2 separate regions of the Homo sapiens genome follow, and region 1 is linked to region 2. Evidence: fine-mapped expression QTL. A gene starts in region 2. The other region holds a variant in brackets. All regions are shown on one strand. Distances are from middle to middle.

What was found.
Region 1: its variant is fine-mapped to the expression of LINC02977 in whole blood (INTERVAL, PIP above 0.99).

Annotation. Positions count from the first base shown.
Region 1 is chr9:112,171,525-112,188,307 of GRCh38, forward strand. SUSD1 (sushi domain containing 1) reads right to left here and starts at 3,773. Exons shown (of 17, transcript NM_022486.5): 1 at 3,609-3,773. The coding sequence starts at 3,711. It also overlaps the pseudogene RPL29P20. RefSeq lists a silencer at 3,232-3,891 and an enhancer at 9,525-9,674. The variant T/C (reference allele first, on the strand shown) is at 6,451.
Region 2 is chr9:112,034,075-112,048,530 of GRCh38, forward strand. It overlaps LINC02977 (long intergenic non-protein coding RNA 2977), which reads right to left and starts at 6,350. Exons shown (of 3, transcript NR_186812.1): 1 at 4,105-6,350. It overlaps SUSD1 (sushi domain containing 1), which reads right to left. Exons shown (of 17, transcript NM_022486.5): 16 at 7,793-7,886; 17 at 6,709-7,418. The coding sequence ends at 7,418. RefSeq lists enhancers at 6,958-7,597, 6,993-8,192, 7,598-8,236, 8,348-8,397, 8,488-8,557 and 2 more.

The DNA.
Region 1 (16,783 bases), 140 kb after region 2:
TGCTGTAAAGAGAAGCGGATAGTGGCAACGGACTTCCTAGGAGGAGTGAGGACACCCAGGCTTGCTTTGAAATATGAATAGCACTCATTAAGTAGCCCGCCATGGGAGAAGGGAAACACAGTCCTCTAATCTTCTTCCTCGCCCCCCACTTTAAGAAACTAACCTCCCCCACTTATAGCCCAAGTTTAATTTTTGACCTGCTCTGTCCATTAACTATCTCATTTATTTTTGCTTTTTCATTTTTCCCCTCTCTACTAAATAATACCCCTCAGTCTAAAATATGTTTGAGTCTGTTTTGCATTCTCTAAACATCTTGGACTGACTTGACCAGCCCAGCTGAATGCTACCTTCGTTTTCCTTCTAATTTCTTTAAAGAGTATCTACTCCGAGGCCAGGAGCAGTGGCTTATGCCTGTAATCCCAGCAATTTGGGAGGCTGAGGCGGGCAGATCACTTGAGGTCAGGAGTTCGAGACCAGCCTGGCCAACATGGTGAAACCCCATCTCTACTAAAAATACAAAAATTTGCTAGGTGTGGTGGTGCATATCTGTAATCCCAGCTACTCGGAAAGCTGAGGTAGGAGGATTTCTTGAACCCAGGAGGCAGAGGTTGCAGCAAGCGAGATCATGTCACCGCACTCCATCCAGCCTGGGCGACAGAGTGAGACTGTCTCAAAAAAAAAAAAAAAGAGTATCTACTCCGTAAACAAGGTCTCTGCCCTCAACCTAGAGCCCTCACATCTAGCTCTCACCCTCTCTCCTCTACTAGCTCTGGGTCTCCACTGACCAGATCCATCCAATTCAAAGGCTTTTTCTCAATCTCTGCCTCTCGGCTTCCCATCTCCTAGTTTCCTTGACTAAATGAGCCTAGTCTTTCTCCATCCTACCCAGATGCTGCTTCTTCCTTCTCGACTTGCATCTACCATCTAAACTCCAAGAATCCTCTCCAAGGATCTGTCTTTCATCCTCCCAATCTTGTCAACTTCAAGGTTTCAAGCAACCATCAAGTCTATTGATTTCATCTCTCCAAATCCATAACAGCACCTCAAATTCAGGATGTCCAAAACAACTAATCATCTTTCTTTCCAAATCTTTCTCCTTCCGTAGAAACATATACCAAGTCACCCAGCCCCCAAGCCTTAGTGTCATCTTTCCCCTTCTGTTCCCTTGCACCTTCATATCTGTTATTAAATCCTTCCTTCCAGTCCATTTCCACCTTACTGTCTACATTCAGTCCGTTTCTGCTGTCATTACTGTGGGCCCAGTCCTCAGAACTTCCAGGCCAGCTATTGCAACAACTTCCTCAATGGGCTTGTCCAAGCCTCCAGTCTTTCCCTACATTGTCGACTGTCAGGAAACCTGCCCTTCATAAAACCAGGTTCTCCAAGGTTGAACATGAAGGGAGAATGTCTAGATAAGGAGAGGGGGCTCAACCAGGAAGCCTTGACTTCTGTTTCCCCAAATTCACCCCCAAAACCTTTAGTTACAGATGACCTTACGTAGCTACTAGCTGTGTTCAGCCATCTTAGTCTAACAATTCAATGGGATCATACTGGACAGTTTCCTACCTTAGAGATATCACAGGAAGATCCTGAAATAGACGCCAAGCATCTGCAAGTCCTATGCGCACTGTTCTCGGAGATAGAGCCAAGGAAGGAATCTTAACCAGGGCACCTAATATTACAAAAATGGCCACTCCAGAAGATCAAGCCATTGAAATACCCATCAGGCATGGTAAAAGTCCCAAGCCAAAGAGAATGGGGGTGGGGGCGGCAGGCAGGATTCTCAACCACAAGTCTCCTTGTATGTCATCACATGGAAATTTCCTTCCACTTCAGGATCAGCGTTTGGTTTTAGTAAGGAAGATGGGGGTTCCTTAGACCCTCTTTCCCCCGCCTCAAGTTTACTTATACAAATAGCAAAGGAGGACATCAGCCCCATGCAGATGGCAGTCCAAGGGGGACAATCCTTCTGTCCTCACGTTGGCAGACACAGATCTCTACTCTGAAGGCTTTGTAGGGGCCTGAGCTCCTTCGGGAGTCTGAGCTGGAACTGAAGCTGGAGCTGCAGCCTGAGCCTTGGTTTGATCCTTGACCTTGGTCTTTGGCTGGCACAGCCTGAGCCCCTTGGCAATGCGGGCACGAGCACGTTTCCCAAGCTTGAGGTGGGCAACGTAGGCAAGAGCTGACACCCTTTGGAATCTTGGGCTTAACCTCCTTGGGGTTTATGAGGGCAAGGCCTCAGCACGTGCACTCATGGCCTTGGCACTGTCGCCCTGCATCTTCTTTAGGCCCCTCTTATTGTGCTTCTTGGCAAACCGCATGTTTGTCAGGAACTTGGGGTCCACCCCTTTAAAAGATTCGTATCTTTGTGATCCGGGTTTCATGATGCCGTTTCTGTGCCATTTTCGGGACTGGTTGTGTGTGGTGTGGTGCTTGGATTTGGCCATGTCTGCACTGTAACCTGTGGCTCCCGAAGCGCCTAGAACTGGCTAGACCCACTTTTCTTGTCACTCCCTGAGACGGCTTCCAGTGGCTTCCAGGCACAGCTAAGTCCAAAGGCCTAGGTCTGCCAATCAAGGCACTCTGCCCTCTGCCTCTGGTGCCTCCGTGTGCTTCCTTCCCTTCTCCCCCGGGCCTGAATTCTGAAGGAATTCATTCATTCTACACTCATTTGTGGAGAGGTGACAGTGCCTTCTGCTATGAGCTGGGATACCTTTTTCACATTTTCCCATATCCAAATATGACCAATCATTGATGGCCCAGCTCAAGGGTCACCACCGATTCCCCTTTCCCTGCCCTCACCACCCACACCTTCTCATGGCACCCATGCCATTCTGCCTTGTATTACAGTTATGTGGATGAATGTCACCTCCCCTGCGTGTCTGAATCCTCTGTGTAATTCCTACTCAGCTCAACACTGCATTTTGCAGAGGAGGAAAAACAACTCCCTCGATTGCTTGGAAATAGAACATTTGCTGGTCTAAATCCTCCAGACAATGAGCTCCACGAGGGCCCGCACTGCCCGCCCTCATCGCGCACAGGGAAGCTGTTCAAGGGCCATCTGTTGAATGAATGAGTGAATTAATGGCTTCACTCCTGTACTCTTCCTTACGCGTCTTTCTCACCATATTTAGCATCCGGCTCTCTAACAACGTGAAAAAATTAAAAGTGGTAAGAAAATTGCTTCGGGTCAAAAATGTGTCATGCAAAAGCCACCGCAGAGCCGGAAGCGTGACAGCGCCGCAGAACGCCCTGGCCTCCCCGCCCTTCCCCGGGCGCCGCCCTGCCCGGGTCCGCGCTCGCGCCCAGCCCCCACCCCGCCTCCTGGGCAGTGGAGGTCCCTGGGGGCCCGGCCAGGCCGCCTTAAAACCGGCGTCCCCCGGCGTCGCGGGGTCGGGCGGGGGCAGGGAAGCCCGGCGGGGAGCCCCCCGCTTCTCTGAGCTCCTCCTTGCCGATCTCCAACGGCCGGCGCGGGCCCCACCTGCGCCCCACGCCTCGGCACCGCGCCGGCCCGGCCCAGGGGCGGGGAAGCGTCCGTGCGCCCAGAGTCCTCGAGGCCCAGCCGGGGGCCCCGCCGGCCGCCCGTGCCCGTCCCAGCCCGCACTCACCGTCGGGGCCCGGCGCTCCCGCGGCGCCGCGGGCCAGGCCGAGCAGCAGCAACAGCGGCAGCAGGCGGCGAGACGGGCCCGCATCCCAGGGCCCCCGGCCCATGCCGCCGCCGGTCCCTCCCGGCGCGCCCGCGCCTCCTCCCGGGGCCCTCAGGGTGCAGAGATAAGGCTACAGGCGCCGCGGGGAGGGGACCAGCCGGCGGCTTCCGGCGCCGCCGAGGGAAGCGGGGGGCGCTGCGGGGTCCCCGGGAGGCCGCAGAGCGCGGGTCCTTCCTCTTGTCGGGGCCTGGGCTTAGGACACGCCCGTTCCGCGTCCGTCTCTGGCTCCGCACTTGCTGCCCTCTCGCCGCTCACATTCGCAAAGGGGGACAGACACTCATCGGATAATGACACAGCTGGACGCAGAGCCCCGGAGAGTGCTGGGGAGGAAATGTTGCGGAGGATTCAAGCCACTCGAGGGCTCAGGGAGGCACCCCCGGGGAGAGGGGTGAGGGGAGCAAGGGGCGGAAATCTTCCAGGACGTGAAAGGGAGCTGGATGAGGTGACCACAGCGCAAGGCCCAGATGAGAGGTCGGAAGACGCAGACCCAGGCCACCCAGGGGCGACACACTTGACCAGGTGACACCTGGTCACCGGGAGTGAGAGAGAGTAGGGCTGTGATGGAGGGAGGGGCTGGCATCAGTCCCCGCTGCTCTGAGGACACCCGGCTTGGGACGCGCTGATGCCAGCCCCTACCTCCATCACAGCCGTACTCATCCCAAGGGAAGGAGTAAACCAAGACCCAAGGATGAGAAGGACGTTGGGGAGGAATCTAAGCGGGAGTTTGTTGTAGAAATGGGGAATGGGGACCTAGAGTGAGAGCAGAGGGTTGGAGAGGGGCGTTGAGCTGCAGAGGGAAGTTAGCCCTCCTAACCCAAGTGATGGAGGTCGCCGGGAAGCTGTCACAGTTTCAAGCAGTGAATGACTTCATCACTGACACATCTCTGTCTGTTCTGTGGAATTGGGATTGGGGTTGGGTTGGGATGTGGAAGGCAAAGAGTCCAGCCCGGAGTTGCTGCAGGAATCAGGCAATAGAAGACATGTCCTGGCCCGGTGCGGTGGCTCACGCCTGTAATCCCAACACTTTGGGAGGTCGAGGCGGGTGGATCACTTGAGGTCAGGAGCTCGATACCAGCCTGGCCAACTTGGTGAAACCCCGTCTCTACTGAAAAAAAAAAAATTAGGTGGGCACGGTGGCAGGCACCTGTAATCCCAGCTACTCGGAAAGCTGAGGCGAGAGAATTGCTTGAACCCAGGAGGCGGAGGTTGAAGTGAGCCGAGCTCGCACCACTGCACTCCGGACTGGGCGACAGAGTGAGACTCCATAGACAGATAGATAGATAGATAGATAGATAGATAGATAGATAGATAGATAGATAGATAGACAGACAGACAGACAGACAGACAGATAGAGATAGAGATAGATGTGTCCTGCAGCTGGGCATTGACAAATGAGTGTGAAGAGGGCAGTGTGTAAGAGTGGAATCCACTAGGTTTTATGACTAGTCGGGGAGAAGGAAATAAATAAGATCCGGTTTGAAGGCTTTGAGCTTGTGATGTCTGTGGGAGCGCAGCCGAGAGCAGGCACCCCACTACTTCACCCCATATCCTCACTTGTTTACTCTCTGCCATGAGCCTGCCGTAAATCTCACCACTTTCAAACACACCCATATAAGGGCTAAAGTTGTGGAGTCTTAACAAGTAGTTAAAAATCAACTTCAAGCTGGGTGAAGTGTGGCATGCCTGTAGTCCCAGCTACTAAAGAGGCTGAAGGGCAGGAGAATTGCTTGAGTCCAGGAATTCAAGGCCCATGTGGGCAATACAGTGAGACCCCCTCTCTTAAAAAAACAAACAAACAAAAACAAACAAAGAAAAAGCTCATCTTCCTAGGCTCTTTTTTCCTCTTGGGGAGACAAGGTCTTGTTCTGTTGCCCAAGCTGGAGTGCACAGCTCACCACAGCCTCAACCTCTTGGGCTCAGGTAGTCCACTAGCCTCAACCTCCCAGTAGCTGGGACTACAGGGGCGCAGCATCATGCCTGGCTCATTTAAAAAATTTTTTTTGTAGAGACAAGATCTGGCTATGTTGCCCAGGCTGGTCTCCAACTCCTTGGCTCAAGCAATCCTCCCACCTTGGTCTCCCAAAGTGCTGGGATTACAGGAGTGAGCCACTGCATCTGGCCTCACAAGCTCTTTTCTTAGCAGGCTTTCTTGAAAATTATTTTTGATCAACAAAGACAGGCACCTGTTTGGGGAGCAATAGATGGACGGTGTGTCTCTATTATTTAGACAAATTTTTTAAGTTCAGCTCTCCATAAACTTCAAACTTGGAAATCATGTCATTGTTTCAACAAATATACCATTCACTTAAGATTTTTAACCAGCCTATACCACTTCATCCCCACTGTGGCCCCTTGCAAAATAAATAAACTTAAGTATATATGTATATACATTTTTTATTGATAATGTCAGGAAAATTTGTCCAAAACTTGGAAATGGGCAAAAGAGATTACTGGGTATCCTTTCAGTGGGGTGCTGGGTGCACCGTCGCTGGACTTCCTATTGACTAGGCTATTTTGCAGCACTAGAGGGCTAGAAGTTAACTTGCCGAAAACTGATGATAATGTAAAAGATTTATGTCCATAGCAGTGAAAATGAATGTTTTCCAAGAGAAATATAAGTGATCAGTCCTTTCTGCCAGAAAATAAATAAGTTAAACCCACTAATTTCATTTTGTCCTATATGATACTAACTAGTTAACCAGTTTGGCACCTATTAGCAAATTCATGTGATCATTCCTGATGT[T/C]GGATTTTCCTTTGAACCTTAACATCTTGCTAGTTCTCCTTTGAGATCAACAACTTACTGAGTCCTCCATTAATCAATTGAATAGAATCTTAGATATGTTTTCATCTTATAGTTGCATAAGTCATGTTTTCAACTTTTTGAAAATTATATTTCAGGACAATCCATCTTACTCTATATTCCACATTAGATTGCTTGACTTTCATCAATTCTTTTCATTGGCTCATTTTTAAATTTCAAATACATATTTTTGGTTAAAACAATACTTCTTACTCAATGGTGAGTTCATTGGATCACATAATGAAAAATTATCTCCTCATCCAACAGTATTTGTCACAAGAATTAAAACAGAATCTTGAACCAGTGTTAAGTTTGGAGGAACAGTGGGATTATTGCTGACAAAGTATTTGACTTAAGAAAAATGTTCTTTCAAGAGAGCATGGTTAATATACCAGCATTTTCTAAAAAAGAACTTGAAAGAAGCTTTCTTCTCCTTCTCCCTCTCCTCCATTTCCTCCTCATTCTTCTTCTTCTTTCTTTGAGACAGGAGGATCTCACTGTGTCACCCAGGGTGGAGTTCAGTGGTGCAATCATGGCTCACTGCAGCCTTGACCTCCCAAGCTCAAGCGATCCCTCCACCTCAACCTCCCAAGTAGCTGGGACTACAAGCACATGCCACCATGTCCAGCTAATTTTTTAAAAAAAATGTAGAGACAGGGTCTTGCTGTGTTGCCCAGGCTAGTCTTGAACTATTGGCCTCAAGGGATCCTCCCGCTTCAGCCTCCCAAAGTTCTGGGATTGCAGTTGTGAGCCACTATGCCTGGCTGAGACTTAGTGTTTAGTGGGTATCGACTTTCAGTTTTGCAAGATGAAAAAAGTTCTGTGGATGGATAGTGGTGGTGATTGCACAACAATGTGAATGGACCTAACACTGAACTGTACACTTAAAAATGTTTGTTTGTTTGTTTGTTTTTGAGACAGAGTCTCACTCTTGTTGCCCAAGCTGGAGTCCAATGGCATTATCTCGGCTCACTGCAACCTCTGCCTCCCGAGTTCAAGCGATTCTCCTGCCTCAGCCTCCCAAGTAGCTGGGATTCCAGGCACATGCCACCACGCCTAGCTAATTTTGTACTTTTAGTAGAGACGGGGATTCACCATGTTGGTCAGGCTGTTCTCAAACTCCTGACCTCAAATGATCCACCCACCTCGGCCTCCCAAAGTCCTGGGATTATAGGCATAAGCCACCACACCCAGCCTTAAAAATGTTTAAAATTGGCTGGACGCAGTGGCTCACACCTGTAATCCCAGCACTTTGGGAGGCCGAGGCAGGTGGATCACGGCGTCAGGAGATCGAGACCATCCTGGCTAACACGGTGAAACCCCGTCTCTACTAAAAATATAAAAAAGTAGCTAGGCGTGGTGGCAGGCGCCTGTAGTCCCAGCTACTCTGGGGCTGAGGCAGGAGAATGGCGAGAACCCGGGAGGCAGAGGTTGCAGTGAGCCGAGATCGCGCCACTGCACTCCAGCCTGGGTGACAGAGCAAGACTCCATCTCAAAAAAAAAAAAAAAAAAAAGTTTAAAATCGTTTTTAAAAATTCAATGACAAAAAACGTTTATGCCCATTTTTATTTTTATTTTATCAAATAGGCAAATATTAAGGACTTTCCAAATTAGTTTTGGTTCTGGCAAATCTATATGGGATCAGGTTTACAAGAAAGATATCTTGGAAAGCCCCATTTTTCCCAATATTCCTGAGACATAAGTGAATGGGATTTCGGGAGAGCTCTGAGAGGACTCTGGAGAGCCATGGGTATGGGAAGGCAGAGGGCAGGCAAAAAATTTCATTCTGAACACTGGTTCAGTATCTCTAGGGAGATTTTCCCCCAAGCTGCTCTTCTCAGTGTCGGATTCCAGTGTGAAGAGGTTTGGGGTTTGTCCAGTGGGTTCCCATCTGGCTACAAGGCCAGAAGGAGAATCGAGGAGGGAGATTGGATACTAAATATCCTGGGACTCTCCTGGAAAAAAATCCATTCTTGCTTACCACACTCCTGACCATAAATGATTACAGAGACTGCTTTGGGACAGCTCCTGGCAGGCTTGCAAATTGTTATTTTTGTTTTTAATTTAATTTATTTATTTAGAGACAGAGTCTTGCTCTGTCGCCCAGGCTGGAATGCAGTGGCGTGATCACAGCTCACTGCAACTTTCAACTTCTGGGCAAAAGCAATCCTCCCTCCCCAGCCTCCCATAAATTGTAAATAAATTGTTTATATGTGGGTTTTTTAGGAATGGCTTGAATATCTAATTGTAATGAGTTTAATATACTCTGGGGTTGCACTTACTGCCTGAAGTTTGCATTAACAGAAATAATTTAAATATTTGAAGCCTTTGAAGTATATTGGCTGAAAACTTGTGTGTTTGAAACAAAGTAACAGTCCCTCTGTAACAGTCTGCTCCACCCCCACCTCATCTAACCCTGGCTGACTCGACATCTGTGAAAACCCCAAGGCCACCTTCAAAGAAGCCACATTACCCCTCCCAGAATGGAGTCATCATCTCAAGCAGATTTGTAAAGGCTGATAAGAAGGACCTGTCCCTCTGGAGAAATGCCCTTCTGATGAAGTCTCTAACTCAAACAAAGGCCAACTTCTCATTTTTTGAAGCTTAATGACTCTCAGATACTTTGCTGCTATTGGAGAAACAGTAGGATTACTCTGCCTTCTCCAGCATACCTCTCCCTCCCTTTAGACACACACATACATCAAACACCCTACCTGGAGTTAGTGTGTAGACCTTGGGCAACAAGTGCACTATTGTCTGCTGCACGTGGCTGTGCTACAACCAGTGTGTAATTTACCCAAAACGCTAGTATTCTCAGAAAAGCAAAACAAGCATGGGTGGAAAGGGACAGCTCAGCTTAGGGGACAAGTCCTGGACTCCCTATTTTTACAATAGTGCTCTCTCTCCTCACTGTAATGGACTCAAGAGACCCTGTGATCCCCCCAGCAGAAGCTGGGGCAGCAGCAAGATTTAGATTTGGACTTGGATTTGGGAGCAAACTTCAGACACTGCAACAGACAAGTTCAAGGAGCAGCAGGCTTAGTATTCACCTATCCTCCCCCGACCTCAGGTGGTGGAGACAACACCAAGTGAGACAGGCTGTGTCACCCAGTCTCTGTCTCTGTCACACACACACACACACACACACACACACACACACACAGCATCACCTTCCTCACTTGCAAAAGCCTCAGCTGTTGGTGTTTTTATTCCACAAACCCTGAAAGGAAGCCTGCTGACAGCCCATTTCCGGACCCAGGATCAGCCACCCACAGCCCTAAGGAGAAGCAGGCCAGGCAGTGGGGACCAAATCAGCAATGAGCAGCACAGTCGCTGAGGAAGCCACAACAGCTGTGAAGGCGGATGGTTCCAGACCTTCACTGATAGAGAGACCAGCTCACAGTGAAGACCCGTATCATCGACCTGGGCAAATAGTGCAATCTTCAAAACAAAAATACTTTACTCAATTATTTTGCAATGGACTTAGCTACAAGCTCTATTGGTTTCTTTGCTCGCCACTGTTTTTCATGTCCTATGTCTTCCTCTTTTCCCACTTCTCCTCCTCCTTCACCTTCTTTGGGGACGTCTTTGAGTATCTGTTTCAGAAAGTATTCCTGGGTGGTAAACTTCGAATCTTTGCAAGTCCAAATACATATTGATTTTGCCCTCATAATTTTTTTTTTTTTTTTTTGGAGACAGGGTCTTGTTCTGTCGCTCAAGCTGGAGTGCAGTGGCCCAATCTTGGCTCACTGCAACCCCCGTCTCCTGGGTTCAAGCGATTCTTGTGCCTCAGCCTCCCAAGTAGCTGGGATTACAGGCATGCGCCATCACATCCAGCTGATTTTTGTATTTTTAATAGAGCCAGGATTTCGCTATGTTGCCCAGGCTGGTCTCAAACTCCTGGCCTCAAGTGATCTGCCTGCCTCGGCCTCCCAAAGTGCTGGGATTACAGGCATGAGCCACCGCACCGAACCCCATAATTTAATTATACATTAACAGAATATAGAATTCTGGATTCAAAATAATTAAGTGATAGGTTAATGTGGTCTAGAATTCCAGATTCAGATGGAGTGCTGCAGATGGAGGGTCCCATGCTACTGTGGTTATCAACCCCTTATAGGTGACATGTCATTCTCCTATCATATCTACCAAGCTTTGGGGGATTTTCTCTTTATCCTGGGAATTCAGAAATTTCATGAGGATATAATGTTTCATTATTCTTGCCTAGCACTCAATGGACCCTTTCAATTTGTAGAATTAAGGCTTTCTACAGGAAAGACATTTTTTCTATTAATTATTTGATTCTTTCATTCCCTCAATTATTTCTATTTATCCCTTCTGGAATGCATGGGAATTTTTTTTTAATAGAGTCTCACTTTGTTGCCCAGGCTGCCTTCAACCTCCTAACTTCAAGCTATCCTCTCTCCTTGGCCTTCCAAATGCTGGGATTACACATGTGAGCCACCATGCCTGGCTGGGAATTTTTTAACACTTGCCTCTAGCCTCCATGGCTGTTAGTATTTTTCTTTGACTCTTTACTTTCTTTGCCTTCATTTACTGAATGTGGGAGATTGCCATAACTCAATTTAGTGAACTTTGTGTTCATGAATTTGATCCTTATCCATGCCGTTCTGCTCTTCATTTCATCTGCTGAAATATTTTTATATCAGCAATCATGCTTTTAATTTCTAAGAACTCTGCTTCTTTGTATAGAATGGCTTTTTTTTTTCTGTAGTTGTAATGACTTCTGTTTTATCAGGAAGTTGTTCATTTACTTGTTGAGTTTGATGACTCTTCTTCTGCTGGTTTTCCTCAAGTGTTTCATGATTTTTGACTGTCCTTATTTCTACATGAGGGTCTCCTCTGTTATGAATTAACAGTTTATGAGAATGAATCAGATGGTGATATGGTTTAGCTCTGTGTCCCCATCCAAATCTCATCTGCAATTGTAATCCCCACGTGTCCATGTCCAGGAAGGGAAGTGATTGGATTATGGGAGCAGTTTCCCCTATGTTATTCTCATGATAATGAGTGAGTTCTCCTGAGATCTGATGGTTTTATGAGGGTCTCTTCCCTCTTCACTTTCTCTTCTCTTGCCTGCCACCATGTAAGATGTGCCTGCTTCCCCTTCCGCCATGATTGTAGGTTTCCTGAGGTTTCCCCAGACATGTAAAACTGTGAGTCAATTAAACCTCTTTCCTATATAAATTACCCAGTCTAGGTATTTCTTTATGGCAGTATGAAAATGGGGCCAGGCGTGGTGGCTCATGCCTGTAATGCCAGCACTTTGGGAGGCTGAGGCAGGCGGATCACCAGCTCAGGAGTTCAAGACCAGCATGGCCAATGTGGTGAAACCCAGTCTCTACTAAAAATACAAAAATTAGCCGGGCATGGTGGCGCCCACCTGTAATCCCAGCTACTCAGGAGGCTGAGGCAGGAGAATTGCTTAAACCTCAGAAGTGGAGGTTGCAGTGAGCCAAGATTGAGCCACTGTACTCCAACCTGGGCAACAGAGCAAGAATCCATCTCAAAAAAAAAAAAGAAAAGAAAATGGACTAATACAGGTGAGTTAAAAAAAAAATGGAATCAATAATTTGGCTATATTTCTCCAGGTGAGAATCTCTGCTTTCTTAGGAGTAAATGGAGATTTGTTTACAGTGGTTCTAGCTCCAGTGGTTGTGCAAAGCAGGAGGTAGGAGTGGGGAGATAAAGAGAGTGCATTTGAGACCTCCTTCTTGGTTGCCATACTTTCTCTGGCCCCAGTGCCTTCTCTGGGAGCCTCTTTTGTATCACTATTCTCATCTTATTTGGTAAGCAATAAGCTTCATTTACAGTTATCACTTGGGCTGGTCATGGTAATCCCAGCATTTTGGGAGGCCAAGGTGGGCAGATCACTTGAGGTCAGGAGTTCAAGACCAGCCTGGCCAACATGGCAAAACCCCATCTCTACTAAAAATACAAAAAATTAGCCAGGCGTGGTGGCAGGCACCTGTAATCCCAGCTACTCAAGAGGCTGAGGCAAGAGAATCACTGAATCACTTGGATCCAGGAGGTGGAGGTTGCAGTGAGCAGAGATCGTGCCACTACACTCCAGCCTGGGCAATAAGAGCAAAACTCCATCTCAAAATAAATAAAATATAAATAAATAAATAAAGTTATCCCTTGGGGAAAAAATTCAGAACTAGCCACTTCTAAAACAGAAAATAGGTGAAGACGTTTGTAGCTCATGAATAAATTACCAGTTCACTATCCTACCGGTTCCTTTTCCCATCTCTGCTATCTCTGAACCTGAGATAATTCTGGAGTTCTAATGGGAAAATGTACTATTTTGGAGATGCTCTCTTTCTGCTTTCATGAGATTGTGGGTGCCTCAGCTCTGTTATGTTTTTATCAGTCTGATCACATCTGCTTTATGTTTTCAGCAAATCTCCTGTTTTGCTGCTCTCATAATACCATGCCTGGATTTCCAGTACTGCTTTCAAGTAATTCTGCTCCCACCCCCGGCCTCCATTAAAAAAAAAAATTGAGATGTAACTTTCATGCAGTGAAATATACAAATATTAAGTATATAGCTTATAAATTTGTACTTAAACACACACGAAATATCCACCACCCAAGCCAAGAAACAGAGCATTACAAGCTCCTTGGAAGCTCCCTCATATATTTTATCAGTCAGTCCTCCATAAGTAATCAATGTTCCAACCTGTATAATCACCATAGGTTAGTTTTGCCTGCTTTTGAATTTTATGCAAAGTAAATCACTATTTATTTTTTTGCTTGTGACTTTTTATACTCATCATTGTATCTGTAAGAGTTACATCCATGTCGTTATCAGTAGAAGTTTGTTTTCTTCATTTCTGTGTAATAGTCCAATGCAAACATGTATATGCAACAATTTACTTACCCATTCCATTGTGGATGGACATTTGGACAATTGTCCATTTTTAGCTCCAAATAAAACTGCTATGAAACTTCTTGTATTAATACATGTTTTGGGGGGTATGTACAGTGTTTATTCTGCTGGGTAAATATCCAGGATCACAGGATTTATAAATGGTCAGCTTTAGGCGTATTGCCAAACAAATTTCCAAAGCAGCTGCTGTTCACACTTCCATGACTGATGCAGAGAGTTCCAGCAGCTCCATGTCCTTGCCAACATTTGGTTTTGTCAGTCATTTTAATTTTAGCAACTTTGATGTGTGTATAGGGGCCTCTTATTGTGGTTTTATTTTCATTTCATTGTTGACCAAAAATATTAAACACATTTTCTTTTTTTCTTTTTTTTTTAGATGGAGTTTCGCTGTTATTGCCCAGGCTGGAGCGCAATGGCGTGATCTCGGCTCACTGCAACTCCAGCTCCTGGGTTCAAGCGATTCTCCTGCCTCAGCCTCCCAAGTAGATGGGATTACAGGCATGTGCCACCATGCCTGGCTAATTTTGTATTTTTAGTAGAGATGGGGTTTCTCCATGTTGGTCAGGTTGGTCTCGAACTCCCGACCTCAGGTGATCCGCCTGCCTTGGCCTCCCAAAGTGCTGGGATTACAGGCATGAGCCACCGTGCCCAGCCATTAAACACATTTGTTTATTGACCATTTTGAAATCCTCTTTTAAGACATGCTATCACATATTTTGTCCATTTTGTAAAATTGGGTTATCTTTTTCTCATTGATCTATTGGAGTTTGCTTATATTCTGGATTTAAGTCACTTGTCAGACATATGTATTCCAAATATCTTCTCCAAGCGTATGACTTGCCTTTTCACTCTCTTAATGATGTCATCTGATGAATAAACTTAACTTTAAAGAAGGTAATTTATCAATGTTTTCTTCTATGGTTAGTGCTTTTGTGTTCTGTTTAAGAAATTTTTGCCTATTTGGCGATCATGAAGTTATTCTGTTTTCTTCTAGAGTAAACTTGTAGAACTTCTTATTTTACTTTTCACACTTAGCTCTAAAATTCATCTGGAATTAATTTTTATGTATAGTGTGAAGTTCATTTTTCCCCATGTGGATATCCAATTGTTACAGCATCATTTATTGAAAATACCCCTCTCCCTGCCCCCCAAGAATTGCAGAGGAGCCTTCATTATGAATCAGGGGATTGGGTATGTGTGGAGTCTGCTGCTAAACTCTATTCAATTCCGTTGACCAATTTGTCTATCCTTGCTTTAATACCACTGTCTTAAGTACTGTTGCTTTATTGTAATTCATATCTGGTAGTGAAAATCTTCTGGTTTTATTTTTCTTCAATAGTATCTTGGTTACATTTTTAGCATTTTCCATTTTTACATTATATATATAAAATGTAGGCTGAGCCATGATAATCACTTGAACCTGGGAGGCGGAGGTTGCAGTGAGCTGGGATTGTGCCACTACACTCCAGCCTGGGCCACAGAGTGGGACTCCATCTCAAAAAAAAAAAAAAAAAAAAAAAAAAAAGATCTCCAGCATGGCACACAAGACCCTTTATAATCAGGTCTCTGCTCATGTCTCCATATACATTTCTACTTCCAAAGTCCCCTATATGTCACATTTAGCACTTACTACGTGTATTAAACTGTCACTTACTTGTCTGTCTTGTCAGTCTTTCCCATTAACTTATAAGTTTTGCAAGGACCTGGAGTGTACCACATTCACCAGCTATCATTGCATCTGGGCAAAATTCCTGGTACCTAGTAAGTGTTCTACATATTTGGGGAAGGAAGGAAAAATTGGAATTGATCACTGTCAGCTCTGGGTTGCCAGTGGGTATTAATATTCAGCTCACCTGTGCATCTTTGGAACAAGCTAGGGTAGAAAATCTTCAAATTAGTCATCCCTCTACATGTCTTATTTCCTGTTCATTCAAAGGCTTGATTCCTGGATCATATATCCTCAGGTGACTGTCTCCCACACTGACTGTCTCCAGGGCTCCAATGATGCTTCACATTGTACCGACTTGCTCACATGGTTGTTTAAACATGGAGGCTGGGCGCGGTGGCTGACTCCTGTAATCCCAACACTTTGGGAAGCCAAGGAGGGTGGATCACCTGAGGTCAGGAGTTCGAGAACAGCTTGGCCAACATGGTGAAACCCTGTATCTACTAAAAATACAAAAAATTAGCGAGGCATGGTGGTGTGCACCTGTAGTCCCAGCTACTTAGGAGGCTGAGGCAGAAGAATTGTTTGAACCCAGGAGGTGGAGGTTGCAGTGAGCCGAGATCGCGCCACTGCACTCCAGCCTGGGCAACAAGAGCAAAGCTCCATTTCAAAATAAAAATAAAAATACATAAAAATAGATATGAGTGAGAAACTTTGAATCTGTGCCAAGGTGGGTAATGGAAAAGGAAGCCTATATTAGCCAGTCCAAAAGATTTCTTATGCTTTGATTTTCTCTAGCAGGTTTGTGGAATAAACCCTCAGCACTCATGGGTAATTTTAAAATCAAATTATTGTTTCTTATTGTGGTAGCTAATTCTTAAATACGGTTTGCTAATATTGGCTACAATACTGGACTGACAAGCCACAAGCCTTAGAGTCTCACAGAAAACACAGGTTGTCACACATCATTTAAATCAAGTCACCCGCACCCGTCCAAACAGGTCAGCTGCCATCAAAATTCCTCTTTCCTGGATGCCCCGCCTTCAAAGCTCTGCTCTCTATACTTGGGAGAGTTTGGGTTCAAGTGAAATAAAATATGATGCAAAATGTTGAAAGAAGAGCTGAAATTTATGGGCACCCATAACCCAAAAGTTTCAGTTACAAGTCTGACTTAAGGTGGCATTAACCAGTGATTCAAAAAATACCTCAAGAATCCAGTTTCTCCTCCTAGCTCTGCTCTGTTCTCAGGTTCTCCTCTCATTATCATAAGATGACTGCAGCTGCGGCAGCAGTTTTTACATCCTCTCAGCTTCAAATCTGGCGGACAGAGAAAGATACTCTTCCCACTGAGTGACTTGAGCCCTTGAGCCCTCCATCTATGGGGGAAAGTACCCATAACTAAGCCAACCTCACCACTACACTGAATACTAGCATCAATAATTAGCCTCCATCCACTGGAGCTCGACCTGAGCGTGGGGTCAGCCTCTCCCAAACCCCAGGACTGAGCTGCGAAGGAGCAGTTCCCAGTGGAAACTCACAGAAATGTTTTACCAGAAGGGCAAAAGGATTCTGCACAGAAAATCAGCATGTGTGACTAGCTAGCTATTCCAAATCATACATGCATTTTCTTTTTATTCTTTATTCTTTTTTCTTTTCTTTTTTTTTTTTTTTTTTTGAGATGGAGTCTCACTCTGTTC
Region 2 (14,456 bases):
GGCAGGGCAGCAGCAGCCTGCAGGTTGAAAGAGAGGAAGCCACAGGAGTGGCCACAGAAATGAGGGAAAGTAAAGGAACGTGGCTAACACCAGAGACGAACAGATAGAGACTCTGAGAAGTGGTCTCTGGGGGTCGAGATGGGGACCTGTCCTTTTGCCTTTGTGAAGTTTCTTCATTCTCCATCTAATCCAGAGAATTGTTTTGGAGACACCAAACTCAGACACATTCAGACCAAATAGTTGTGTATTCATTTTCCATGAGAACTCTAGTAAGAATGTTCATGAATGCAGATCACAGGAAGCCAAGTCAGATTCAGAAAGCTGATTTGTGCCCTTGGAAGCCAGCCAGAGTGGTGGTGGGGTACTTAGGCTAGAGTCTCCAAGGCTGACAGCCCCCTACATCATCTCCTCGATAGGGCTACATGCAGTGTGGACATTGACATTCTCTAGCCAGGACCTTGTCCAATGCAGGAGTTGCACTGCCCAGCCGCTGCTCTCTGACTATCCATTCCTAGGCTCCATAATGACAGCTCCCCTTTTGTGGGCACTGCCTGTGTTTAGGCAGAAGGCGGCATTGTAGAGGGCCTCACTGCTGTCCCTGACCATCATCAGCAGAGCAAAACCCATGCAAACTATCAGGGGTACTGGAGCTCATCTGTTGCACACCAATTCTGGTGTTCATCTCCGTGACATCCCAAGCCACAGTCATTATCCCAAAACAACCCAAGTTCCCTCTGATCCTTGGAACTGAGTCCCCTTTCATGTCCTTGGGTCTCCCTTGGATGGAGGGAGTCATAACTCATGGCTAAGAGCTATAGGTGCCCCTCACCTCCTCTCCCTATCTCTGCTTCTCACAGCTACTGCCAAGTTCTTGGCTTGGAAGGGTCATGGGGGCCAAGAAGGACCTTTGTACTCTCCATTACTCGGCCCTGGAGTTCTCACCACCTCTGGAAGCTTTGAATCTGGTCAATGTCTCCTTACTTGCCAAGCCCACCAAGACTCAAGATGGCCACTCCCAGGGACTAAAGCACAGAGCTAACCCTTCAGGTCCACACACTAGGTTCTCCCCCATCTGGTAGAGGTAGACTTTTGCAGACCACACTCATAAATTCTGAATCCTGCTAACCCCAAGGCTAGGGGATGGGACACAAGCCCACGGACCCAAAGAAACAGTGCCCTTTCACTCCCCCAAATCTCTGTGCCGCTCAAGTGAATGCATCTGGTCAGAGGTGAGAAAGTCAATTTACAGACCCAGCATATGACAGCTCTTGGCAGCTTTGACACCACGTGGTAGAGGGTCCAGAGGTCCCTCAGTACAAGCCTGGAAAGAGGAGCTTCAGAGAGATCTCCACTCAGAGAATATGACTTGTGTCCTCTACAGCAACAGAAGACACAGGGCCTCGTATCTGATTCCAAGGATAAGAAACCCAAGGGTCAAGAGGTGGAGGCTGCCAGACTAGTGGCAGGCAAAACAAAAAGAAGCAAGCTCCATTTCCACCAGTCAGAGGACAAAGGCTCTAACAGGTAAGAAAACTGAAGTCTGTGGCTGGAGCCAGCAGTGACGGCAGGAAAACCCTCTGTTTGGCATGCCAAAAATCTATGAGTTTCCATGCATCAAGCAGACACTCTAGGAAGTAATTGTGCTGGAAAAGCCATCTTGATATGATTTCCCAAAAAAGGCCGACTGGCAGAGCAAAAGCACTCCTGCACTTTCAGGGGCTGGAGCTGAGATAGAGGCCAAGAGTTCAGAATAACAAAATATAAAATAGCTAGACAAGCACAACAACATATACATATGAATGACCTTGTAAGTTATAAACTAGAATACTCAGGCCAGCCTCGGTGGCTCATGCCAGTAATTCCAGCACTTTGGGAGGCGGAGACGGGAGGATCACGTGAGGTCACGAGCTCGAGACTAGCCTGGCCAACACGGTGAAACCCCCCTCTCTACTAAAAATATAAAGATTAGTCAGGTGTGGTGGCACGCATCTGTAGTCCCAGTTACTCGGGAGGATGAGGTGGGAGAATAGCTTGAAGCAGGGAGGCAGAGGTTACAGTGAGCTGAGATCATGCCACTGCACTCCAGCCTGGGCAACAGAGTGACAGAGTGAGACCTTGTCTCAAAAAAAAAAAAAAAAATTAATGGAAAAATAATGGTAACTTATTCTTACTTGGTATAAACAAAAACCTATTTTAAAGTTACAGTAGGTGGTATTGGCACAGAAATAGATCAGTAGAACAAAAGAAGAAGTTCAGAAATAGACTTCAGCATATGATTCAGTATATGATTTCAAATCACTAACAGAAAAAAACAGTCAATGAATTTTTTTTTTTTTTTTTGGAAACAGGGTCTTGCTCTGTCACCCAGCTGGAGTACAGGGCATGACCATGGCTCACTGCAGCCTCAACCTCCCCTGTTCAAGGGGTCCTCCCACTTCAGCCTCCCAAGTAGCTAGGACTACATGTGCACACCACCACGCCTGGCTAATTTTTGTATTTTTAGTAAAGACAGGGTTTCACCATGTTGGCCAGGCTGGTCTTGAACACATGGCCTCAAGTGATCCACCCACCTTGGCCTCCCAAAGGTTACAGGCGTGAGCCACTGAGCCTGGCCTCTGTTAATTCTTATTTTTTGTAAAGATTGTGTGTCGCCATGTTGCCCAGGCTAGTCTCGAACTCCTGACCTCAAGTGATCCTCCCACCTCAGCCTCCCACAGTGCTGGGATTACAGGGGTGAACCACCGCTCCTGGTCTCAATGACTATTAATAGGACAACTAGCCAACCATTTAGCAACGATTTTTATTTAAAAAGATACCTTCCCCTGCCTCACTCCCTATCCTAAAATAAATTATAGATGGATTAAAAATTTTTAATGTTTAAAAAAATGCTAGATTATATTTAGTACCTTGAGATTAGAAGGTCCAACATAAGGAAAAAGACTGATAAATTTGACTATACAAATTTAAAATTTTTGTGTGGCAAAATATAATACAAACAAGATTGAAAAATTATGAACTCGAAAAATTGTTTACAAAACATATGACAGGAATTAAAATGACTACAACATAAAGAGCTTTTTCAAATCAAAGACAAATAGGCCAAGTACTGAGAAAAAGACAACTCACAAAGACAGAATTAACAACTGGCCAATCAACAAGCAAAATAATCAGAGAGACACAGACAAAACATTGAAACATCCTTCTTCACATACCAGATTAATCAAGATTAACAATACAACAGCACTCAGTGGCGCTGAGGCTTTCTGCTGGTAAGAGTGTAAATTTTTGTATAAGTTTTTGCATAAAACTCTTCCAGCAATCTGCACTGTAAAATGTACATAGTTTCCATTCCAACAATTTTACTTCCAGGAATGTGGCCTAAGTGATAATTGCATACCTTCATACTGACTTTTATAAGGACAATAAACATCTGAAAATATTCTAAATGCACAACAGAGTATTGGTTAAATGAATTATGGTACAAACTTATAATGCAGTCATGAGTGACATGAAAAATGTGGCCTGGAAATGATGACTGAAAGAATCATGTTACAAAACCACACACAAAATTTGACTCCATTTAGGTAATCCTGAGTTGAGTTTGACTCTATTTTGGTAACCCTGAGTTGAGCCCAAAAAGTATGGATCTAGATGTGCATGCCCCACCCCCCACCCACCACACACACACACATACTCCACCACCACCACCCAAAGGATTCACTCTCTCTGAAACAAGAGCACACACTGCCTTTTAAATTGACTTGCTTCATGGACTCACCCTCCCACAAACTGGGGCACAGAAAAGGCCACATCCTTCCTCCCCAGAAGCAGGCACTGCTTTGTTGGTTCAGTCTAACCAACAAAGGATGTGGTAGGTAAAAGGTTCTTACAACGCTATTTGATTGACTTCTATGAGACCATTGAGTTCCTCTTAGAAGAAAAGAATGGGAAAACAAAAGGTTTAGAAAATCAGAAAATGTGAGATTAGCAATGAAAAGGGAACACTGAATGTTCTTTTTTATTTCCTTTAAAATCAATTTAAATATTAATTTTATTCCAAGCTAAAGTGGAATTTCAAGATAATCACTTCTGCTCTGGTCTTACCTTACGTGCCCCACTGCAATTTCAGGTCTCGAGTCAGAGAACAGACTATTTCCTCTTCCCCTTAATTAACCTCCATCCATTTGCTTGATTGTTTGTGGCTCCTTCTATAAGGGATGGGTGGAGGTGCCTTACAGTGAAAAGACAGGTATACATACACACACACTGTATATATATAGATTGGAAATTCAAAGGCATGACATTCCTGGGAACCAAAAAGCCTGTCCAAAGATTAGCTCCATAGCTAGCTCAAGGGCTTTCAAATGCCAGAAAAGAGAACTAGGGCAGCCAGAAGACTTGGCCCCACAATTCAAGTATTAACACTGAGCAATTCTGTGTTATAATTTGCAGCAGTTAGAGGAAATCCCAAAGTCCACGTTTTTGTTATTTCAGTAAATTTTTTTGGATCTCACTCTGTCACCCAGGCGGGAGTGCAGTGGTGTCACCACGGCTCACTGCAACCTCAGACTCCTGGGCTCAAGCGATCCTCCTGCCTCAGCCTCCTGAGTAGCTGGGACTACAAGTGCACGCCACCATGCCCGGCTAATTTTTAAAACTTTTTTTGCAGACATGGGGTCTCGCTATGTTGCCAGGGCTGGTCTTGAAGACCTCCCAAAGTTTAGTAATCTTATATGAACTGCTTTTACTTTTCTGCATTGTACCCAGAAGGTGATGTTTTACTTAATATTTAGTCAGTTATTTTAACCAGAAACTTTTAATACTAAGCAAGGGGGATTTCTTCCTTTCTATCACAATTATACTACATTCCATGTGGACAACTGTATCTCTGGCAGTTAATTCTAGAGGTGGAAATTAGGGAAGGGGGTAGTATGGAAGCATACAGCATTTACAAAACTGGCAAAAAATAAAATAAGTCAAGGGGAGGCTCAGATTCTTTCTTTGGACAAAGGTGGGCTTTGAGGAAAGATCCTCACTCATCAGAGGCCGAGCCCTACACTAACCACAGTAATTTGTATTGATACCCAATTTAGTTCAGGAGCTATAAAAATGTATGTTTGCGGCCAGGCGTGGTGGTTCATGCCTGTAATACCAGCACTTTGGGAGGCCAAGGCGGGTGGATCACGAGGTCATGAGATCGAGACCATCCTGGCTAACACGGTGAAACCCCATCTCTACTAAAAATACAAAAAATTAGCTGGGCACGGTGGCGGATACCTGTAGTCCCAGCTACTCCAGAGGCTGAGGCAGGAGAATGGCGTGAACCCGGGAGGCGGAGCTTGCAGTGAGTCGAGATAGCGCCACTACACTCCCGCCTGGGAGAAAGAGTGAGACTCCGTCTCAAAAAAAAAAAAAAGTATGTTTGCATTATTGCACATAAAAATTAAAAATTGAGAGCTATTTGTATTCATCTATTGAGAGAAACGGTCTCTGGGGGTTAGGATGGGGACCTGTCCCCATTATAGACCCGTTCTGGTCTATAATTTACCTAAGACGAGAGCAGAAAGGGTTTTAAATGCTGATCCTAAGTTGTCGTCGGAGGGCAGTACCCCAGAGGACAGGGGAATCATTCCTAACACTGGCAGGGGCCAGAGGCTGACAGCTGGCATTGAACACCTGAATGTCAGGATATTACTCGCCTCTCTCTAATTCTTCCCAATAGAGCGGATACACTCTGGACTCCCTGGGGTGGAGCAGCTACATGGGCAGTTTGTACTTGTTCCTCTTGTCTCTTCATCTGCCCATAAGCCCAAGGCACTCAGAGTCTTCCCTCACTGACACCCAGCAAGCCGGTGAACACACCGGCCCACTGCATTGGGAAGCCCTTTCCTTTTGCTAAGGACTGCATTCGTCTATGCTGCATCTTGAGGCTGTGCAGTATCACCTCCCCTCCTCCATGGTTTTTCTTCTCTAGGCCTAGCAGGCAAGGGAGAAGGAGAGATGCCAGAAGCCTCTGTCTTTCCTTCCCCATTCGTTTCTTACTGAGTCTTGGAGTTAAATTGTTAGTTAGTGCCGGGCGTGTGGCTCACACCTGTAATCTCAGCACTTTGGGAGGCAAAGGTGGGCGAATCAACTGAGATCAGGAGTTTGAAACCACCCTGGCCAACATGGTGAAACTCCATCTCTACTAAACATACAAAAATTACCTGGGCGTGGTGGGGGGGCCCTGTGGTCCCAGCTACATGGGAGGCTGAGGCAGGAGAATCACTTGAACCCGGGAGGCAGAGGTTGCAGTGAGCTGAGATCACGCCACTTCCCTCCAGCCTGGGCAACAGAGTGGGAGTCCATCTCAAAAAAAAAAAAAAAAAAAAGAGGAAAGAATGCCAATTCATGATTTAAAAGTAAAATCAAATAGACTCCAGCTGTCAACTTAGCATATTCACAGTAGGTCCAGCACCGCTTATATCTAATGTTTCATAGTTCATAATGGAGTAACATTCATAGTTACTGAAGTTTAGATAAAAGAAGTGTCACCCTCTATGGCAACCCCTCCCCTGAAACACACATGGACTCTAGTCTAGCCATGGGCTCAATACTGTTTTAAGCATTGCTACTACACTACCACCAAATCTCAGTTTCTAACAGGGGGCAAAGAGCATTTTTAGAAGACGCTTAGTAACAGAAAAATTAACCAAGGGAAGAACAATCTTAATTACGGGATATTTTTACTGGAATGTAGACATTACTTTTGAATATATAGGACAATAGAAATTGCATCAAAGCAATGCTGCCTAACAGACACAGCAGGAAACTTATTGGCATGGCCAGGCTAGTATATTTTCTCATTAGTATATCAACTAATTATAGGAAAAGTACTGTTTCTAAAGTGCTTGAAACATTTGCCTACGTCACTGTTCTCTTTTTCAATGACCTCCTTCATAAAGTCAAACTCTAGCCCAAACTTAAGCCCATCTCACTGCATATTGTAAAGAATGGATTCTGAATGAATTAACAGAAATGCTTTTATATAGGAGGTTGCAGAGATTCTCTTGCAGTCAATGTCTAGAGGAGCTGACCCTCAGGCATCACTCAGAGGAAGTCCCAGCCAAGATTCACAGATCTGTATGTAGCCTTCGGTCAATATCACAGTGTACATCAGGAGTCTCAAGTTCATTGCACAGAACTGGTCCTGTAGCAGGGAAGACTCAGAATTCCTGAGTTTTCTCCTTATGGTGACTCCTCAGGGATAGCCACCATCTTAAATCCAGGAATGGGGCCCAGCTGGGAATGGAGAAAGTTGCAGGCCCACATGCTCCCTGGACGGAAGTCACACGGAGCCTCTGTGCGGGCACCTGAGAAGCTGCCAGAACACCTGCCCAGCAGCAGTGCATCCTCCCCACTCAGTGTCCATCTGCCATCTAGACATGGAGGAGGAAAAGAAAAGAGACAAATATGAACACACTTTGGTTTTCCCACTGTGCATCTCTATGCACAGCTCACACGCACACCCATGGGAGGAGGCGAGGGGGAGCAGCATGGAAGCTCAGCCACCCCTCTGTGTGTGGCCAGGGCAGCCATCACTGGTCCTGCTCTTTTCCTGGGAAGGCATCCCCCATGCTACCTGGAGGTACAGGGTTAGTCATGCCTTTCACCGCTGAGTGTGCTCTGCTGAGCCAAGGACAACCTCCACCCACACTCCCTTTGACTCCCCTCATCCCCAGCTGTTCTTCGTGACTCTGACCCATCCTCCCCTCCATTCCAGTCATTTCTCAAAAATGACACCCTCACATACCACACCGCTGAGAAGGAGAGGAATGTGAGAATGATCACAACAGCCAGGGAACCCAGTCCAACACCCGCCATCTGCAGCAGCATGAGTGACGAATCTGTGGGACAAAACCACAGGCTTAGCCCAGAGTGCACGGCATCACCACCTCCCAGGAGGCACACACCCCACTGTGCTCAATCCATTTTAACCCAGAGCTTGGCCCCATTTAACAAAGAATCCCAAGAATGCCCAACATGCCTGTGTGTCCCCTGAGTTGGCCCTGTGGATATGCAGCCTCAGGAAATTACAGTTACAAGGTATTTCTGAAAAGGAAGTGTAAAGCCAGACCATGTTAAAGTTACAAGGGAGAAAACAGCTAATCTTGTTGAGCACACAAATACTATGCAACGTGTTACATTTTTTGTTGGTCCTCTCACAATCAATTACATTTGATAGATTTTTATGGGCCGTTTTCTTTTGCATGGAGGGACAAGTCATTATGATATTATTTGAATTTGGTTTCCAAAACTGATAGCCCTGATGGTCAGATAGAGCAAAGGAATATCCTTTGTTGAGTCACCTGTCATTTTCTCCATACCTCAACAAGGGTCATACTTCCCTGCTCAGGTCAGCAGGTTTACTGAGAGGATAAAAGTACTTTGAAAGACATACTTTCTATTTGGGGACCATCACATGCCAACTCCAGGGAGATCCCCGATTATAAACTAAAAAACACTCACAGTTGAGTTGCACATGTGGGCCAAGTGACTGACTTAGAGAATCATGTTCTAGATTAGAGCAAAAATTTCATTTTAATTTGCAAACACTTACTTAGCACTTACTATGTGCCAGACACTGTTCCAAGCACCTCACAAATATTCACTCATTTAGGCTTCTAACCAGCCTTCACATTGGGTACTATTATTATTCCCTTAAGGAACCAAGGTGGGAGTGGCTAAGTACAACTCAGGTCTTTACAGCCAGGTTAAGAGGAGTGCATTTCTATTGGAAACTCAGTACAGTACCTGGCACTAGTAAAACCAGCCATAGAATACACCTTGTGTTAAACAGCCCTGCAGAACTTGAAACCGCCTTTTTAAAAATTATAACCGAGAAAATTATAACCGTGAAAAAGATCTGACCTGACTGACTCCATCTTGCTTCTAACCTCCAAGTTGCCCCTGTTCATTCCTGGGCGTAGGCTGAACTAACTTTGGGAGGAACTCAGTTTATAGTTTAACTTTGAAACAAAGACGATAATAGCCCTTTCCCCAAACAAATCCCCATCCTGTCTGGGGACTAGACTGCCTTTGCAAGACTAACAAATTAGCCATGAGATTAGAAATTATGGTTTAGGGGTCCTACAGCTGGAAGCTGCAAGATTCTGAACTGCTCAAATTGCTCCTAGGGCTAACATCACTATTGTAAAACCTAAGATCAGTGCTTGAGATATTTTCCAGACCCTGCACTCCATGGATCGGCTGGCATCACCCAGATCCATAAACTGGTTCATCTGATCTTGTGGCCCCCAACCAGAAATTGACTCAGTGCAAGAGGACAGCTTCGACTCTGTGATTTCATCTCCAACCCAACCAATCAGCACTTCTGACTCACTGACCCCCCCATCCCCTACCCCCTACCCACTAAGTAATCCTTAAAAACCCCATCCCTGAATTTTCAGGGAGACTGATTTGAGTAATAATAAAACTCCAGTCTCCCATACAGTTGGCTCTGTGTGAATTAAGCTCTTTATTGCAATTCCTCTGTCTTGATAAATCAGCTCTGTCTAGGCAGCAGGCAAGGAAAACTCATTGGGCGGTTACTAATTCTCAAAAAATGCTGCCAAGAGCCTTTCTAGAAAACATGGCTTATATTATTTGGTTGCTTTTAGTCTATAGAAGAAAAATGGCCTTGACACTTTAAGAAGCTAGATTACTTATTTTGTTTTATTTTATTTTTATTTATTATTATTTTTTGAGACAGAGTCTTGCTCTGTCACCCAGGCTGGAGTGCAGTGGCATGATCTCGGCTCACTGCAACCTCCACCTCCCGGATTCAAGCGATTCTCCTGCCCCAGTCTCCCTAGTAGCTGGGACTACAGGTGTACTCCACCACGCCCGGCTAGTTTTTGTATTTTAGTAGAGACAGGGCTTCACCATGTTGGCCAGGCTGGTCTCGAACTCTTGACCTCAGGCGATCTGCCCATCTTGGCCTCCCAAAGTGCTAGAATTATAGGCATGAGCCACCATGCCCAGCCAAGAAACTAGATTATAAAATGGAAGGAGAAACAGTGATTAAGTGAAGAATTAGTAAAGAAAAAATATTAGGAGAGTGACTTGAATTGCAAGACAGTAAAACAGTGCAGTATTAGAATAGGAATGAATACATTGGAACAAAATAGCCTAGAAACAAATCCAAGCATATCAAATACTTTCAAAGTTTGAATACTGGAGTCAGATGTCCAAGTCTTTATCTGAACACCACCACTGCCTGTGTGACTTTGTGCAAGTTATTCATCCATTCTGTGTCTCAGTCCCCACACTGAGGGATGCTGTAATAACATGGGAATGATAGCAATACTACCCACCTCTAGGTAGTGGGAGAAGTCAGTGAGTTAGTACAGGTTGAAACAGTGCCTGGCACAGAATAAGCAATAAGCAAATGTTAGCTATTGTTAATTATTATTGTTTTTGTTGTTTTGATACTGTTTCAGATCATTGGGGAAATGATAAATTTTTCATAACCAGTGCTGAGAAAATTGGCTAACCATTTAGAATCAAATAATTTTGATCACTAGAGCTTACACCATATATCAAAATAAAATCCAGATGGATTACAGACTTAAATTGAAACCTAAAAGGATTAGGAAATGTTAGTGAATATTTACCTAATATTAAAGGGGGTAAGAAATTTCTAAGCATATTCGTTAACACAGAAACCTTAAGAGAATGAGAGATTTAACCACTTTAAAAAGCATGCACTTCTTATACCAAAAACTACCATAAGCAAGATTAAAAGGCAAATGGCAAGCTGGATAAAATATCTAGAATAATGGGCAAGAAGTTAACATACAGAGAGTGTTACAGATTAATAAAGACATACCTCAATAGCGAAATGAGAAAATTCTACGAAAAGGTAAATCACATGAAAAACATGATTACAGATGATCAATAAAACTTTGAGCAAATGCTCTCTTACAAGTAATAAAAATGCAAATTAAGGCATTAAGATGCCATCTTTGTGCATGACTCAGAAACATTTTTTTAAATGCCATCTTGGTGGACTAATTAACTAGATTTGTTTTGTTTTGTTTTGTTTTTAAGAGAAAATACAATTCTGGAGATGAACGGGGGAGCTGGTACTTTACTGCACTGGCATTTCATCCGATCTACCCAGTATTCCTTCCAACTTCTGACATCAAGTTTTTTTCTGTGTATTTTTTCCTCTACACTTTAACCCTCTGTATATTTTAATCACTGATTGATGAATATGTTGAACTGAAGATGACTGTGGACAGAAATCCATATCATGCATATTCTTGGGTTTGATTTCAACTCATCAATAATTGTTAATGAGTTGATATCAACTGTGCATAGCCATTCAGCTTGTTTCTAAGCCCACATACAGCTCTCATGTCCCCACATTGTCCACAAGGACATTATTGTTATTATGCGTGCCATATTTCCCTGACCAATTACTGACTCTGTGCAAGAAGAAATGGAAAGCAATCTGACCTAATCTGCTCTTAAAGCTCCTGACTCCCGGGAACTGCTGTTTTTTCTACCAGGGATACACAAGCCATCACTTGAAGACCTTGCTTTGCCTTGACTTCAAGTTACCATCATCTACACTTCTGGTGGTTCTTCCTTTGTACAAAGTTCCTTGTTCTTTGCTCATCTCTAGTCCTCTTACATCTCTCCATTTTCTTCAAGGTTTATTGAAGATCATTTGCAATGGTTTATCCATCTCATGTGAAAATTGTATGAACCTGCCAGAATACGCTACATCCATGTTGGAAGACTTGAACCTATGTAGGGTAGCAAGCTCTTTTCTTTCTTCTAACTATCCCCTCACAAACGAAGAGGACAAAAGCTAAGTAGGAGTTAAGGAAGCTGACTTTCACTTGACCATCCACCAGCAGGATCTACCTGGGCACAACTATTCCTTACTCTAGACATAGTATTGGAAAATGATCTTTATTTATTCTGCATAGCACAATTTGGGTTTGGCTCCAGGAATGATTCTTGCTGGTAGATCAGTTCCTGGTTATATGTCTTTTTGTCTACTTTGCATATATACTCTAAAAATCTGAGTCAATCTAATCAAGAGTGCTCACAAGTGTTGCCACACAAGCTTCTTTAGAGACTTTCCTCATTAATTCCTTAATAAGAAAATTTACAACTGGCAAATTTGAATTGTATTTTTTATAGCCTCACCATCCTTTGGTTACCCTACCTTTCCATGGTCTCATGCCAGAGAACCATGTTTATTTTTCTTCTGAATCACTTGTAGAATATTTTTTTACAAACCCAAGTGAATCACTCATGTGTTATATCCCACATCAGTTACTCAATCTTGGAGAAAGTAAGTCCATTAAGACTAAACTTCACCATTCTCTTTATGGTGGCTCCCTCAAGAGAGCTAGTGCTCAGGAGGAGTGATGGGGCCTTGCTGGACTTATCTTTAACCCCTTCCCTGATAGAAATATCACATGCTGAAGAGGAAGTTAGAAAGGCCCTATTTCTACTCTCAGACTTTGTGACAGCTTGAGGACGCTCCATGGGTGTGGACATTTTTTCATGAATATACACGGGCATGGTCACTTCCTGAAAGCACCAATTCTGTTCTCCAAATGGTAAATAATAATAAAAATAATAATTAGCACAGTGACTTCTATTTACTGTGTTAAATTTCTCTTTGCTATTCTAGGGTCTTCTCACTTGAATTCCATTCAGAGCCAAAGATGGCAAAGGAAATCAAAGTGGAAAACTAATTTAAAGATAAGTTTAAAGATTAATTTAAAGATTAATGCTTGATACATTAGCAACACTGTTATATTCCATTTTTATTGCAGTTTAACAAATCACCACAAACTTAGGTAGCTTTAACCCATTTATGAGCTCAGAATTCTGTGGGTGGTAAGTTCAGGCACATTGTGGCTGGTTCTCTGCTCAGGGCCTGTATTAGTCCCTTCTCACACTGCTATAAAGAACTACCTGAGACTGGGTAATTTAAAAGAAAAGAGGTTTAATTGACTCACAGTTCCACAGGGTGTACAGGAGGCAAGGCTAGGGAGGCCCCAAGAAATGTACCATCAAGGCAGAAGGTGAAGGGGAAGCAGGCACAGTCTTCACATGGCCAGAGCAGGAGAGAGAGAGAGTAAAGGAGGAAGTGCTACACACGTTCAAACAACCAAATCTCATGAGAACTCTATCACGAGAACAGCAAGGGGGTAATTCATTCCCATGATTCAGTCATCTCCCACCAGGCCCCTCCTTCAATACATGGGGATTACAATTCGACATGAGATTTGGGTGGGTACATAGAAGAAAACCGTATTAGGGCCTTACGAGGCTAGAATCAAGGTCTCAGGTGGACTGAACTTCTTTCTGGAGGCTCTGGAGAAGAAGCTGCTTCCAAGCTCATTCAGGTTATTGGCTACATTCAGTTCCTTGCTGCTATGGTTTGAGTTTATATCCTCTGAAACTCACTTGAAATTTAATCCTCAATGTGGTGGTGTCAGGAGTTGGGACCTAGTGGGAACTATTTGGGTCATGGGGTTGGAGCCCTCATGAACAGATTAATGCCCTCTCTCAGAGGTGAGTGAGTTCTTGCTCTGGAGGGGCTGTATTACCAGGGAGCTAGTTGTTATAAAAATGAGTCAACTTCCTAGACTCTTTCTTGCTTCCTGTGTCATCACATGATCTCTTTGTATATACCTGCTGGCTTTTCCACTTCTCTACCATTGTTCTGGTGAGCATGTAGCCCTCACCAGAAGCAGGCCAGATGCAGTACTATGCTCTTGAACTTCCCAGCCTACAGACTCATGAGCTAAATAAACCTCTTTTCTTAATAAGTTACCCAGCCTCCAGTATTCTGTTATAGCAACACAAAACAGACTAAGACACTTGCAGTTATAGGACTAGGGTCCCCATTTTCTTACTGGCTGCAGCCAGGCCTTGCTCAGCTCCTTCTGTTAAGCTGCACTCCTTGCCATGTGGACCCCTCCATCTTCAAGCTGCAGGAGAATTTCCCTATGTCAAATCCATCTCATTCTTTGAAGCTCCAACTTCCCCTATCTCTGACCTCTAGATCCAGATTTAAAGGGCTCCTGTGATTAGGTCAAGCCTATCTGGATAATCTCCCTATTCGGGAGCTTAAGTACATCTCCAAAATCCCTTCACAGCAATACCTAGAACAGTCTTTGAATGAATAACTGAGAGAAGGTAGATGTATACCAAAGACAAGGAATTTGGGAACCATATTAGAATTCTTCCCATCACAACTATAAAGGTTTAAAATGATTGTGTGCATGTATATATGTACATATATACACATATATGTACATATACAGTAAATACATATGTATACATACACACTAGGTTTATATCCTGATGTAAGTCTTCTCTGGCTTATTTGATAAGTATTGCACCTCCTATGCTTCATTTCCCATAAAACTAACTGCTGC